Linked DNA regions of Homo sapiens. The protein of the gene in region 1 purifies or fractionates together with the protein of each later gene. This does not show direct contact. Each region holds a gene or a part of one and is shown in the gene's direction. Other genes may lie near its edges.

Region 1 (3,586 bases):
GTATCACACCACTTGGATTTGTTGTCTTTGATTTTCAGTCTGATAGAAGTCTCTGCTTTCTGTTAGACCATCAACTTCTCAAGAGCAGGGCCTGTATTTAGTTACCCAGTACTAGATGGGTTACAATACAATTTATTGTAACTCAATAAATGTGTTACAAGAAAGAGTTAACCAAGGTAGTAAAATGGCTTAGGTGCTTGTCTTATGTGAATAAACCCAGCTGAGGGAACCGTTAAACCAGCTGGAGGTGAGGTAAAGAAGGAACACACAGAGTTTCCTTATTTTAAAAATTAATAAATGTTGCTTCATCATTAAAATTTTCTTTTAATCCAGGAAAAGATGATGGGGAGAAGCTAGAGAAAGGAAAAGGTTAAGTCCCCATTATGAGCTCTGCTTCTGCCCTCATATTTTAAGGTTGGAAATGCTGATTATAAACAAAGTCTCCCATCACTCCACGTCTCATTAGTGATTTGGAAAATGCACTAGCTGTGCTCAGAGTGAGACACAGAGGCGTTTTCAGTCCTTGCAAGGAAACCCAGCAGGCCATGGTTGGGGTGCCATCTGGAGATTGAAGGTGGTATTACCACTCTGTCAGTTCTAAGTGGGGTCACAGTGCATCTTGCAAAATGCTTTTCCTGTTGAGTCACTGAAGTCCCATTTCATAATTGTTTTTCTGTCGACTTCATGCTTTGATCAAATTAGTAGTCACTGTTTTCTGTTTGTTCTGTTCAAAATGTCAGTCCTGCTTTATATTCAGATAGTCAAGTTCAATGTGGAGTTGTTTCACTAATCATAAATTCTTGAATAAAAATAGTGCATGTCAGGATGAAAGCTAACATGCAGTAATGGAGGAGAGCAGATGCCCATGTTCTCCGCAGGGGAAAGAGGCCTGGGTCAAGGTCTCTTCCGCAGAGGGAGGGAGAGGGCAGGGTAGGTCTTCCTTTTCCTTCTATGCTTGTTCACACCTGCCTTGCTTAAAATTTGGCTCTGGGGAAATTAGGTGATGTTCTAAGCTTGGGCCCTCAAAATGCAGGTTTATTTTTGTTATGATTTGCATAAGGGGTTATATTTAGCCTGGGCAGAATTTAGCTGTAAAAATGAACAAATCACTCAACTCATGACTTTTTCCCACTCTTCAGAATGGCAAACTTTTTGTTCTCATTTTTTGCAGGACAGTAGAACTGAGCTGAACCCTAAACACTCATCCAGTCTAGATCTCTGCCTTCCACTAAGCAATTGAAAACAGACAATTGTTTGTCTCCTTCTTTAAAGTTCCCACAAAGGAAAATTCTTTTTCTCACGTGTTCTAGTGTTGAACATGATTTTTCATTGACAAGTTCTTAAATTTTTCATGAGCTAGTTCCTCAAAATCATTTTCTGATGGTAAATTTACTTGTTTTAATCTTCATGTAGAAGATAATGATTTTAAACTTTAGCTTTTTCATAAACTTAAATATTATTTAATATCTGGTCTTCGGTAGGGTTCTTGATGCTACTCAGCTTACCTGTAACTCAGCCCTTTTCTTAGAGGTTGTTTGTTTCTTAACCTTTTGAAACCTTTGTTGTTCATTGTTAAACATAAAGTCTTTCATTCCTTCCACTCATACTTTCCCTGTCCCTTTCTCCCCCTGTGCCCAGGCATGTCCCCAATTAAGATGTGGTGAGTCTTCTGCATGTCTTCACTAGTCAAGAGGATTTTCTTAAATAACAAGTTTTATTGAGATATAATTCACATAGAATTCACTCATTTAAAATGTACAATTCACTGAGTTTTAGAATATTCACAACCATCACCACAGACAATTATAGAAAATTTTCATCACCTCATATAGAAACCCAAATCCTTTAGCTATCACCCCTCCACCTGCCTCCCTCCACTCTCCCCAACACTAAGCAACCACTATTCTACTTTCTGTCTTTACGGATTTGCCTATTCTGGACATTTCACATACATGGAATCCTGCAATATGCGGTCTTCTATGTCTGGCTTCTTTCACTTTGCATAATGTTTTTAGAGTTTGCTCATGTTGTAGCATGTATCAGTACTTCATTCTTTTTTATGGCCAAATAATATTCCAGTGTATGAATATGTCGCATTTTGTTCAGCCATTTATCGATAGATGGATATTTGGGTTGTTTCCACCTTTGGGCTATTACAAATAATGCTTCTATGAACATTCTTGTACAAGTTTTTGCATAGACACATAGTTTCCATCCTCTTGGGTATATCCCTAGGAGTGGAATTACCGGATCATATGATAACTCTGTTTAATCATTTAAGGAACTGCCAGGCTGTTTTCCAAGGTCTGCCACCAAATGGTGGCTATACCATTTTACATTTTCACCAGCCATGTGTGCAGGCTCTGATTTTTTCACATGCTTGTGAACACTTGTTATCTGTCTTTTTGATTCTAGCCATCCTAATGGGCATGAAGAGAGAGCTTGTGGTTTTGATTTGCATTTCTGTAATTACTAATAATGCCAAACATCTTTTCATGTGCTTTTTCGCCATTTATATGTCTTCCTTGAAATGTCTATTTAGATGACTGGCCTATTTTTCAATTGGGTTATTTGTCCTTTGGTTGAATTCTAAGAGTTCTTTCTATATTCAGGCTATGGGTCTCTTATCAAATGTATGATTTGTAAGTTATTTTCTCCCATTCTGCAGGTTGTTTTTTCACTTTCTTCATAGTGTCCTTTGAAGCACAAAAGCTTTTAATTTTGATGAGGTCTAATTCATTTTTTTCTTTTGTAATATTTTCTATAATACATGTTATAAAAATATTAAGTGTATTTTTGTTTTCCAAGTGTAAAATTATAGAAAATATGTTTTAAAAACTATGTCATCCCATCAAGAACCACAGACTTAGCTAAGTGTCTTCATTCCCATTCCTTTTCTTGAGTGTTTCAATCATTTTGTAGTTTTCTTTCAATTTTTTGCATGCTTCTAACTGGAGAGTTTTGAACTTAACAAGGAATTTAGAATAAAATCCCAAATAATATTAAATAAAAGCTGAGAGGAAATGTTTTGTAGTCCTTGTTGGTATCCTGATCTCCGATAACATATTACATTTTAAAAACAGCCGATACTTGGGAGTCTGAGGCAGGAGAATTGCTTCAACCTGGGAGATGGAGGTTGCAGTGAGCCGAGATCGCGCCACTGCACTCCAGTTTGGGTAACAGTGTGAGACTCCGTCTCAAAAACGAAAAACAAAAAACAAAAAAACAAACAAAAAAAAAACCGCCTAACACGGTCATTTCACAACATTCTGCCTTTCATCCAGATATCACTCTATGTTCTGTTTACATAGAGCAAATCTTTATAGTGGATGGTCACTGTAAATGTGATAATGAAAGGCAATAGCTTTCATGTGGATCATCTTTCTTCCTTGTCCAACAGGTATGGCAGATCCCAGAAAATGGACTCACCCTTTCCCTGACTGAACCTGTGGTGATTTTGGAAGGCCACTCAAAGAGAGTCGGCATCGTGGCTTGGCATCCAACGGCCCGCAATGTGCTTCTTAGTGCAGGTGGGAGCTGAGCTCAGCGGTCCTCCCCTTGTCTTCCACTCTTGTGGCTCTCTGAG
Region 2 (3,586 bases), about 38 Mb from region 1:
ATTCTTTCCCACCATTTTTTCCTCTACAACCACCTCCAAGATTCTGTTTCAGGAAATCTGGATTTGTGCATAATACTTGATATTTATTAATCACCAGAAAATTTTGATCCATAATCCAATATGGAGATCAGCATCCACTGTATTGTTAAGTCTTTTCCTTAGGTGTTGATTTGTGAGGCTTATATTAGTCTTTCCACCATGGTAATCTTTGGACAATTTTTTCTCACTCATTCATTCTGTAAGTTAAAACAAGCATTTAACTAGATGCCATTTGAATGTGTTATGCTTTTCTACAATAAGTGGTATGCTTTGCTACAATAAAAGTTGAGAGTTATAGTTTCTGTTCTTATATCATTTCTGCCTATGAGAAAAAAACCTACTCAAAAATTCAACTTTATCAGAAAATATTCAGCATATAGCACCAATTTGTACAATACCTTTCCTGTGGTTCATCTATCAAGGCCTCTCCTAAATAATATAGAAACATTATAACTGTTCCATTTTTACTGTTTTACACAAGAAGTGAGATTCATCCCCAAACCCCAATCAAACCTTATTTAACATAAGATTACTTAGTTGGAACTTTAAAAAAAAGTAGATATGGACTCAGTGGTGAGTTATTCAAGATAAAAGATAATTCATAGAAAAACTACCTCCTATGACCCTCATACAAATATGTCTAGTAATAGACTTCGAAAATAAGGTAACTAGAATAAGCCATTTGCAATTAACCACTGAACAATGCTATATTCAAAAAATGCCTGATAATATGTGTTGGGGAAAGAAATTAATTTCTAGAAAAAGCAGAAGTTAAAATTTGCACAATTGTGGTACAAAAACACCCTTATATTTGAGTACACATAAGTATAACACATACTTTTGCTTTAACACAATTATAAGCTAACAGATATATTTTTCTGCTCCATCTTAAATATGCCATTGTGGGGTTTTTTCTTTTTGTTTTTGTTTTTTCTTTGGTTTTTGTTTTTAGAAACAAAGTCTTGCTCTGTTGCCCAGGCAGGAGAGCCATGGTGTGATCATAGCTCAATGTAGCCTCCAACTCCTGGGCTCAAGTGATCCTCCCACCTCAGCCTCCCAAAGTACTGGGATTACAGGCATGAATCACCATGCCCAGCCCTGATAAAAGTTTAAGAATAATACTTGTAGACCTATATCATGAGAGCTCACTGACTTGCTAGAGTAGCTACTGTGAAAAATTAACCGAAATGCATTCATATGTTTGCAATGAGTGATTTCAAATCATTGTTTAAGTTGGTAACTAAGTATTATAATCTACAGCAGCACAAATACATGTGTTGTTCATCTATGGGATGTGAATTTTTTTGTGTGTTCTTCCATGAAAGAAAGCAGACCTATGAAGGTAAAAATCTAAGCCACATGTTTCATATTTGTTTCATAAAAGACACATTAATGATTGTATTCAAGTTTCCAGGTAATATTTATTTAACACCTACTATGTGCCAGAGCTTGTGCTAGCACTCAGGTACCCTGTGCTAGTACTAAGGTGCCCTCCACAAGTGATTTTTGACCCAAGCTGCATATTAGACTCACATGGCAGCTTTTAACTAATACTAGAGTATAAAACCTGAGCTTTATCCTCTAAGCTGACTAAATGAGGTATTGTATTTTTAAAGTACTTCCTAGGTGATTCTGATGTGCAGCCAAGGTTGCAAATCATTAAATACATCTTATTCCTTAAAGTAATGGGGAAATCAGATAAGTAAATAAATAGGTAATTACAATAGAATGTAGAGAGAAGAAAGTACTTTCCTTTCCAATATATGTCCTTGCCAGTATGTCACATTAAGCACTCATTCCTTTTTTTTTTTTAATTATACTTTAAGTTCTAGGGTGCATGTGCACAATGTGCAGGTTTGTTACATAGGTATACGTGTGCCATGTTGGTTTGCTGCACTCATCAACTCGTCATTTACACTAGGCATTTCTCCCAGTGCTATCCTTCCCCCAGTCCCCCACCCCCCGACAGGACCCAGTGTGTGATGTCTCCTGCCCTGTGTCCAAGTGTTCTCGTTGTTCAATTTCCACCTATGAGTGGTACACGCGGTGTTTGGTTTTCTGTCCTTGTGATAGTTTGCTGAGAATGATGGTTTCCAGCTTCATCCATGTCCCTGCAAATGACATGAACTCATCATTTTTTATGGCTGCAATAGTATTCCATGGTGTATATGTGCCACATTTTCTTAATCTAGTCTACCATTGATGGACATTTGGGTTGGTTCCAAGTCTTTGCTATTGTGAATAGTGCCACAATAAATATACACGTGCATGTGTCTTTATAGTAGCTTGATTTATAATCCTTTGAGTATATACCCAGTAATGCAATCACTGGGTCAAATGGTATTTCTAGTTCTAGATCCTTGAAGAATCACCACACTGTCTTCCACAGTGGTTGAACTAGTTTACACTCCTACCAACAGTGTAAGTGTTCCAATTTCTCCACATCCTCTCCAGCATCTGTTGTTTCCTGACTTTTTAATGATTGCCATTCTAACTGGCAAGAGATGGTATCTCATTGTGGTTTTGATTTGCATTTCTCTGATGACCAGTGATGATAAGCATTTTTTCATGTGTCTGTTGGCTGCATAAATGTCTTCTTTTTAGAAGTGTCTGTTCATATCCTTTGCCCACTTTTTGATGGGGTTGTTTGTTTTTTTCTTGTAAATTTGTTTAAGTTCTTTGTAGATTCTGGATATTAGCCCTTTGTCATATGGGTAGATTGCAAAAATTTTCTCCCATTCTGTAGGTTGCCTGTTCACTCTGATGGTAGTTTCTTCTGCTGTGCAGAAGCTCTTTAGTTTAATTAGATCCCATTTGTCTATTTTGGCTTTTGTTGCCATTGCTTTTGGTGTTTTAGTCATGAGGTGTTTGCCCATGCCTATGTCCTGAATGGTATTGCCTAGGTTTTCTTCTAGGGTTTTTATGGTTTTAGGTCTAACATTTAAGTCTTTAATCCATCTTGAATTGATTTTTGTATAAGGTGTAAGGAAGGGATCCAGTTTCAGCTTTCTACATATGGCTAGCCAGTTTTCCCAGCTCCATTTATTAAATAGGGAATCCTTTCCCCATTGCTTGTTTTTGTCAGGTTTGTCAAAGATCAGATGGTTGTAGATGTGCGGTATTATTTCTGAGGGCTCTGTTCGGTTCCATTGGTCTATATCTCTGTTTTGGTACCAGTACCATGCTGTTTTGGTTACTGTAGCCTTGTAGTATGGTTTGAAGTCAGGTAGTGTGATGCCTCCAGCTTTGTTCTTTTTGCTTAGGATTGTCTTGGCTATGTGGGCTCTTTTTTGGTTCCATATGAACTTTAAAGTAGTTTTTTCCAATTCTGTGAAGAAAGTCATTGGTAGCTTGATGGGAATGGCATTGAATCTATAAATTACCTTGGGCAGTATGGCCATTTTCACGATATTGATTCTTCCTATCCATGAGCATGGAATGTTCTTCCATGTGTTTGTGTCCTCTTTTATTTCGTTGAGCAGTGGTTTGTAGTTCTCCTTGAAGAGGTCCTTCACATCCCTTGTAAGTTGGATTCCTAGGTATTTTA
Region 3 (3,586 bases), on another chromosome or scaffold:
CAGTTATGAAGAGACCTCTTAGTGCAAGACCAGAACCTTCTAACAGCACACCGTAGTCTCAGGAAGTTTGCTCAAATCTGACAAGAGTGGGATGTTCATGTGGTCCAAACCACCATTATTTCTTGGTGTATTTATCCAGGCAAGATGACTAAAGTGGGAATCCACTGAGACCACAACTTCACAGTTCACATCATGAAATTCCTTAGCTTTGTCACTAAAAGCAACAGTTTCTGTAGGACCACGAAGGTGAAATCCAAAGGATAGAAGAAAAGCACCAAATTATTTCCCCTTAAAGTCATCAAGGCTTAGGTCTTTGAACTCTCCATTGACAATGGCTGTACCCTTAAAATAGGGTGCATGCTGGGCGACAGCAGGTGCATGGTATGAGGAGCTGGTGCTAAAGAATTTTGCTTGACTGGAACCAGACCATAATATGTTTGTCAAGCTCGTTCTTCCAGAAGCAGCAAGCTTGAGGGCTGCAGTGGCAGAAATGCCCCAAGGAATGGCACTCACATGTCGGGCAGCCGATGCTCAGAGTAGCCTTCCCACAGCAGCTACCATCTTCAGTGCACGCGGGCGAAACTTCCTTTGTCTTGTACTTAGGTCTTGGCCTGAATTTCCATCAGCCCAGAATCTTCTGCTACTTCCTCCCCTATTTAGTTCTTGGTCTGAACACAGCCTAGAATTATCCTCTTCCTTGTTCCTTCTGGTTCCAAATGCAGAAATCTTGAGATCCTGAATCTGGCACCTCTTTTCAGGTGACCCCAGGCAGAAGGAGTTGGGCTCTACCAGCTAAGCTGGATATATACGGGGAAGTTTGGACAGAGGGTCTGATTACCTTTTGCCACCAAAGCTTTGACACAGGGTTGCAGGACTAAGCCTTCATGCCTTTCTCCCTCACTGCTAAAGATTGTAGAAAAGTATCCCTTTGGGAAGCCTCATAATAAGGGTCTCTGTAGACTTCTAAATGTCTAAGAGATCCTTTTTGTTGGATGAGATTTTTTTCCAGGAAGTAGTGCATTCTGAGAACTGAAGTGTGAAGTGAATTGTTTTTCTTGGGGACCCTCAAGTCACATGCTTACAGGAGGCAGGTCGTCTAGACACAAGAGAAATCTGCCAGGTTTCAGACGCAGAACCCTAGAAAAGAGGCCCCATCTGTGCTTTTCTTACTCTAGCAGCACCCAAAGTTTTGATCCTCCTTTTTGCTTCTCCAGGCATTGTGGCATTTAACACTGGTCCATCTATCTGTCTGTCTCCTGCTTGCATCAGTAATGAGTGGACCCATCTTGCTCTTAAAGCCTGGCCAAAGAGAAGGCTGTGTCCCCCTAATTCTGTTCCATTGCACCCTTTAAGAAACCCTGAAGCTGTTACAGCGCCTGCTGAAGTCACCAGGCTGCCGGAAGATCCCCGTGCTGGTGCAGAGCAAAGATGATGTGATTGTCACAGCCTCCAACTTCAGCTCTGAAAGGTAACGCGTGGGGAGCGCACACTTCAGACAGGCACCCTTGCAGGCAGGACCACAGTGAGTGATGGGCCTGGAATGGCTGTCAGTTTGGGCATAAGGTCTCATGAAAACACCACATCAACACCTCTCCCTATTCAGAGATCGGAGGAAATAGAAGCTTCCAATCTTAGCGCAGGGTCTCCCAAGCCAGCATTGTTGCCCAGGGGTAATATCACGTAACCCAGATTGTGAGGTGCTGGCATTCCTGGGGTTGGCATCCCGGCTGAGACTTCAGTGTCCTTATCTGTGAAATGGGAATAACATTCCCTTCCCTGTAGGGCTCCCGTGAATGTTGGAAATGAAGTATGTAGAGCACTTAATGCCCTGCCTGGCTGATGGATGGTAAATACACAGCCATTTTTGTAACTCAGTTTTTTATACTGTTGTTCCTCAAAAGCTCACTAATCAGATCAGTTTTGGCATTTACTCATTAATGTATTCTTTCATTCCATAAATATTTATTGGATGTTTGTTCTGCGAGACTCTTCATCTAGATGTTGAGGATTCAGAGTTGAATTGAACACAATCCTTGTCCTCAAGGTGTTCAGCTCCTTGGTGAGAGATGCTCTCTCGATAATGGTGAACTCTACTAACTCTGCCTGTTTGCCCAGAGCTTGGTCTATAGCGCCAGGCCCAGAGCAGCCTGGCTTTTTGCCTATGCCTCTGCCCTGATGTGATCTTCAGTACCATCAGTTAGCCTGCAGAGGGGGCACATTTCAGACAGCCCCATTTGAGCTTGTTGATATTCTTGAGTGCCTATTCTGTGCAGGCACTATTCTAGGAGCTGTGGGGAATGTGTAATTCGTGATCTCAAGGATTTTAATTCAGTCACCCTGAATAGGAGCAATAGAGGCCATTTACAGGACTCTGATGAAAAATCAGATGCAGTCATGTGTAATAGAGAAAAAGCTCTCCAGGAACTCAGAGGAGTCAAGAGTGTCCACCCAGGAAGGATTTCATGGAAGAAGTGGTATTTGAGATGAGCTCTGAAGGGTGAGAGGGCCTGGTAGTTGCATAAAAGGGAAAGAATTCAGGAAGGAAGGTCAGAGTGAGCAAATCCACAAGGGCAGAAAAGTTCCAAAGTTTTAGGAGAAGGGAGAGTTCTCTGGTGTGGCTGGAATATAGGAATTTGCGAGAAGTGAATCTGCAGAGATGGCTACAAGCCCAAGCCAAAGGGCTGTGAGTGTTGGGAGAGGGATTTGGGGTATCTTCTCTGTGGTGGAAAGGCGGTTAAGGATTTTAAGCAAGCATGCGTGTGTTTTAGGAAGAAGCAGTCATGAGGTTCCAAACTAGGGCAGTGGTGGAGGACAGAGAGGAGAGGACAGGTGTCAGAGACAGAACTGAGTGAGAGAAGAAGGCCTCAGAGTAGGGCTGGCCAGGAGCTTGCTAGGTCAGGGCAAAGAGGTCAAGCCCTTGGAGGCAGGTGAGGGAGAGGTGGAGTCATGAATAGTGGCATCTGCTCCTCGAGCCCTGTTGCTGCCCCTGGTCTGTGTCAGGGCAGGACCTGGTCTCCTGAGTGCCTCTCTCCTTTTTTCCTTCCTCTTCTCCCTCTGCTTAGGATGTGCCCGATATTCCAGATCTCCAACGTTACAGGCGAGAACCTAGATCTGCTGAAGATGTTCCTCAACCTCCTCTCCCCCCGCACCAGCTACAGGGAGGAGGAGCCTGCTGAGTTTCAGATTGATGACACCTACTCCGTCCCGGTAAGTGGCTCTGGGCGGGTAGCTGGGTGGGCACTTCCTACAGTGGCATCAGGGGGTGGGTCTGTGCTGGGGATGCACTTATGAGGCCAGGGTCTTCTCCTTGGCAGGGTGTGGGGACAGTGGTTTCGGGGACAACACTGAGAGGCCTGATCAAGCTGAATGACACGCTGCTGCTGGGCCCAGACCCCTTGGGTAACTTCCTGTCCATTGCTGTCAAATCCATCCATCGCAAGCGCATGCCTGTCAAGGAGGTGCGGGGTGGCCAGACAGCATCCTTTGCGCTGAAGAAGGTGAGTAGCGATGATACTGAACGCTCCCCTCAGACTCCATCATGCTAGGCTCTTGGCCAGATGCCCTGCTCACCCACTCTAGTCCTCAT
Region 4 (3,586 bases), 9.4 Mb from region 1:
CACGGCTTTTTTCCAAGCCACTGTTCCTTTATTTCTTTGCCAAGGAGTTAGGCAAGGGGCAGGTCTGCAGGTTGCATGAACACATGTTGCATCTGTAACTCTGAAGTTCATCTTCCTTTCCATTGTGGCGGTTGCCACTGGATAATTTGGGTTCCCAATCCTAATAATTTAAAAATAATTCTTGGCTGGGTGCGGTGGCTCCCGCCTGTAATCCCAGCACTTTTGGAGGCCGAAGTGGGCAGATCACCTGAGGTCAGGAGTTCAAGACCAGCCTGGCCAACACAGTGAAACCCTGTCTCTACAAAAATACAAAAACTTAGCGGGGCATGATGGCGGGTGCCTGTAATCCCAGCTACTCAGAAGACTGAGGCGGGAGAATTGCTTGAACCCAAAGGCAGAGGTTGCAGTGAGCCGAAATTACGCCTTGCACTCCAGCCTAGGCAACAGAGCGAGACTTCATCTCAAAAAAAAAGTAAATAAATAAATAAAAAGAATTCTTATCTGCTTTTTTTTTTGAGACAGAGTCTTGCTCTGTTACCCAGGCTGGAATGCAATGGTGCGATCTTGGCTCACTGCAACCTCCGCCTCCCAGGTACAAGGGATTCTCCTGCCTCAGCCTCCCGAGTAGGTGGGATTACAGGTGTGCGCCACCACGCCCGGCTAACTTTTTGTATTTTTAGTAGAAACGGGGTTTCACCGTGTTAGCCAGGCTGGTCCCGAGCTCTTGATCTTGCCCACCTTGGCCTCCCAAAGTGCTGGGGTTACAGGCAGGAGCCACCACGCCCGGCCATTCAGCTAATTTTTAGTAGAGATGAGGTTTCACCATGTTGGCCAGGCTGGTCTCCAACTCCTGACCTCAAGTGATCCACCTGCCTCGGCCTCCCAAAATGCTGGGATTACAGGCGTGAGCCACCGCCCCCGGCCCTCACCTGCTTTTTAAAGTGATTGCTCAGAAGCATTTCTTGCTGTTTTGGAATCTCTGTCATTAGATGGCATTCTCCACCTTTCAGCAAGTGGCTTAGTTTTTAAAATTTGGTGTTTTGTTTGTTTGTTCGTTTGTTTTCATCCTGACTTGGCTGAAAAGTCTTGGGAATGGTGTGGCCAAAATGGTGAGAGAATCAGAACTTCCTGGGGCTCCAGGCTGGCTTCAGATCTTTAAAAGGGAGCCCCTTCTAACCAGACAAGAGGCCAAATACAGATAATGATTACTCTTTCACTTAAATGGGAAGGATTGCCAGGGGCAAGTGGCAGTTTATTTTTTCTATAACAGCTTTATTCAGATATAATTTACATGCCACAAAATTCACCCTTTTTAAGTGTACCACCCAGGGGATTTTAGTGTAGTCCAGGGTTATACAGCCATCACCACTAATTCATCATTTTTATCACCCCAACAGGTTCTGCCCATCTTCCTATTCCTGCAGCCTCTTTGTATTGGGTCTTGATTGTGGAGGGGGCTGGACAATTGTGAAACTTCTCAGCAAAATGGGTTGCATTTGCTTCTTGTTACCTAGTGACAGTCTAATGCCCGTTAGCACCTGTCGGTCTTTTTTTATGAGTCAGGGTTGGCTGGGCGTGGCAGCTCACGCCTGTAATCCCACCACTTTGCGAGCCCGAGGTGGGTCTGAGTGGAATGCTTGAGTCCAGGAGTTCAAAGACCAGCCTGGGCAACATAGTGAGACCCCCCACCCCAACCCGCCGCCCCTCCACCATCTCTAAAAAAGAAAAAAACAGTTTTTTACCTTAAACAAACAAAAAGAGAGACAGGGTATCTCTGCTGCCCAGGCTGGAGTGCAGTGTCACAATTGTGGCTCACTGCAGCTTCAGTCTCCTGGATTCAAGTGATCCGCCCACCTCAGCCTCCCAAAGCCCTGGGATTACAGGCCTGAGCAGGCACACTCACACCCGGACACCTGTCAGTCTTGAATGGGCGTCAGAATCACCTGGAGGGCTCGCTAACACACAGATGCTGGGCCAGGTATAATGAATCATTCCTGTAATCCCAGCACTTTGGGAGGCTGAGGTGGGAGGATCACTTGAAGTCAGGAGTTCAAGACTGTCCAGGACATCAGAGTGAGACCCCCCCCAACCCCCATCTCTTAAAAAAAAAGTTAAATAATTGCTGATTTGTTAAAAATAAATAAATAAAACACAAAGGGCTGCTGCTCTCCCGCAGTTTCTGATCTAGGTGTTTTGGGGTGAGGCTTGATAATTTATATTTCTAACATGCTGCGGCTGCCGATCTGGGCTTTGGAACATGCTCCGTTTGCCTGGGAACCCATCCTCACCTTTTCTTGGCTGATTCCTACTTGTCCATCAGATCTCAGTTTGGCTTCCTGGGGGAAGTGTTTCCTGACATTTGCCCTAGTTGGACTTAGGAGCCCTTTCTCTGAGGCCTTATCTTGGTGTTTATCACACTGCATTGTACTTGCCAGTTTATTGTCTCTTTTCTTCACTAGACTGTGAACTCTTGGAGGTTTCTGTGTGTTGTGTCCACAGTGGGATTCCCAGTGCTTTGTCCAGAGTGGGCACACAGTCCCTACTGCCAGCCCATTCTTCCATGGGGCTTCTGAGAGAACTTGAACTCTAGGGCCATTTGAGATGGAGAGAGATGGAGAGGCAGAGAGAGAGGGAGAGGCGGAGAGAGAGGGAGAGGCGGAGAGAGAGGGAGAGGCGGAGAGAGAGGGAGAGGCGGAGAGAGAGGGAGAGGCGGAGAGAGAGGGAGAGGCGGAGAGAGAGGGAGAGGCGGAGAGAGAGGGAGAGGCGGAGAGAGAGGGAGAGGCAGAGAGAGCAGTGGGACAGTGGAAACAAAGCCAAAGCCCTCTTCTTTCTACCCCTTCTGGATTTCTAGGCAAATAAAGCCACTTGGGTTCTGTATCAATTATTGATCGCCACAGTAATGCTGTATAAGAAACAACCCCAAAATGACAGTAGTGCTTATTACCCACAGGCTGGGGTGGTTGGTTAGGGGGCTCTGCTGATCTGCCTGGGGATCGATGACTAGCTGAAGGCTGATCTAGAATGGGCCAGGCTGGAGCCACTGAGACAACTTGGGTCTGTACCATGTAGTTTGTTTATTTATTTATTTGAGACAGAGTTTCACTCTTGTCACCCAGGCTGGAGTACAGTGGTACAATATCGGCTCACTGCAACCTCCGCCTCCCGGGTTCAAGTGATTCCCCTGCCTCAGCCTCCCGAGTAGCTGGGATTACAGGTACCTGCCACCATGCCCAGCTAAGTTTTTGTATTTTTAGTAGAGACGGGGTTTCACCATGTTGGCCAGGCTAGTCTCGAACTCCTGAGCTCAGGTGATCCACCGCCTCAGCCTCCCAAAGTGCTGGGATTACAGGCGTGGAGCCCGGCCTTTTGTTTGTTTGTTTGTTTGTTTCTTGTTTTTGAGACAGAGTCTTGCCCCGTCACCCAGGCTGCAGTGCAGTGGCACAATCTTGGCTCACTGCAACCTCTACCTCCTGGGTTCAAGTGATTCTCGTGCCTCAGCCTCCTGAGTAGCTGGGACTACAGGTGTGCGCCACCACGCCTGGCTAATTTTTGCATTTTTAGCAGAGACGGGGTTTCACCATGTTGG

The links. Proteins that work in one complex are often made in the same cells at the same time.
Region 2: the proteins of CORO1C (region 1) and PTPRB purify together in Homo sapiens (pull-down; one large-scale study listed by IntAct). This does not show direct contact.
Region 3: the proteins of CORO1C (region 1) and GTPBP1 purify together in Homo sapiens (affinity purification with mass spectrometry; 2 studies listed by BioGRID and IntAct, with this or other methods). This does not show direct contact.
Region 4: the proteins of CORO1C (region 1) and VSIG10 fractionate together in Homo sapiens (co-fractionation; one large-scale study listed by BioGRID). This does not show direct contact.

Annotation. Positions count from the first base shown.
Region 1 is NC_000012.12:108,661,973-108,665,558, reverse strand, and holds part of CORO1C (coronin-1C), read left to right. Parts: intron 1-3,400; coding exon 3,401-3,530; intron 3,531-3,586. UniProt on the Homo sapiens protein: Plays a role in directed cell migration by regulating the activation and subcellular location of RAC1. Increases the presence of activated RAC1 at the leading edge of migrating cells.
Region 2 is NC_000012.12:70,630,844-70,634,429, reverse strand, and holds part of PTPRB (receptor-type tyrosine-protein phosphatase beta), read left to right. Parts: intron 1-3,586. UniProt on the Homo sapiens protein: Plays an important role in blood vessel remodeling and angiogenesis. Not necessary for the initial formation of blood vessels, but is essential for their maintenance and remodeling. Can induce dephosphorylation of TEK/TIE2, CDH5/VE-cadherin and KDR/VEGFR-2.
Region 3 is NC_000022.11:38,722,944-38,726,529, forward strand, and holds part of GTPBP1 (GTP-binding protein 1), read left to right. Parts: exon of another isoform or gene 1-579; intron 580-1,353; coding exon 1,354-1,468; intron 1,469-3,062; coding exon 3,063-3,207; intron 3,208-3,314; coding exon 3,315-3,497; intron 3,498-3,586. UniProt on the Homo sapiens protein: Promotes degradation of target mRNA species. Plays a role in the regulation of circadian mRNA stability. Binds GTP and has GTPase activity.
Region 4 is NC_000012.12:118,097,426-118,101,011, reverse strand, and holds part of VSIG10 (V-set and immunoglobulin domain-containing protein 10 precursor), read left to right. Parts: intron 1-3,586.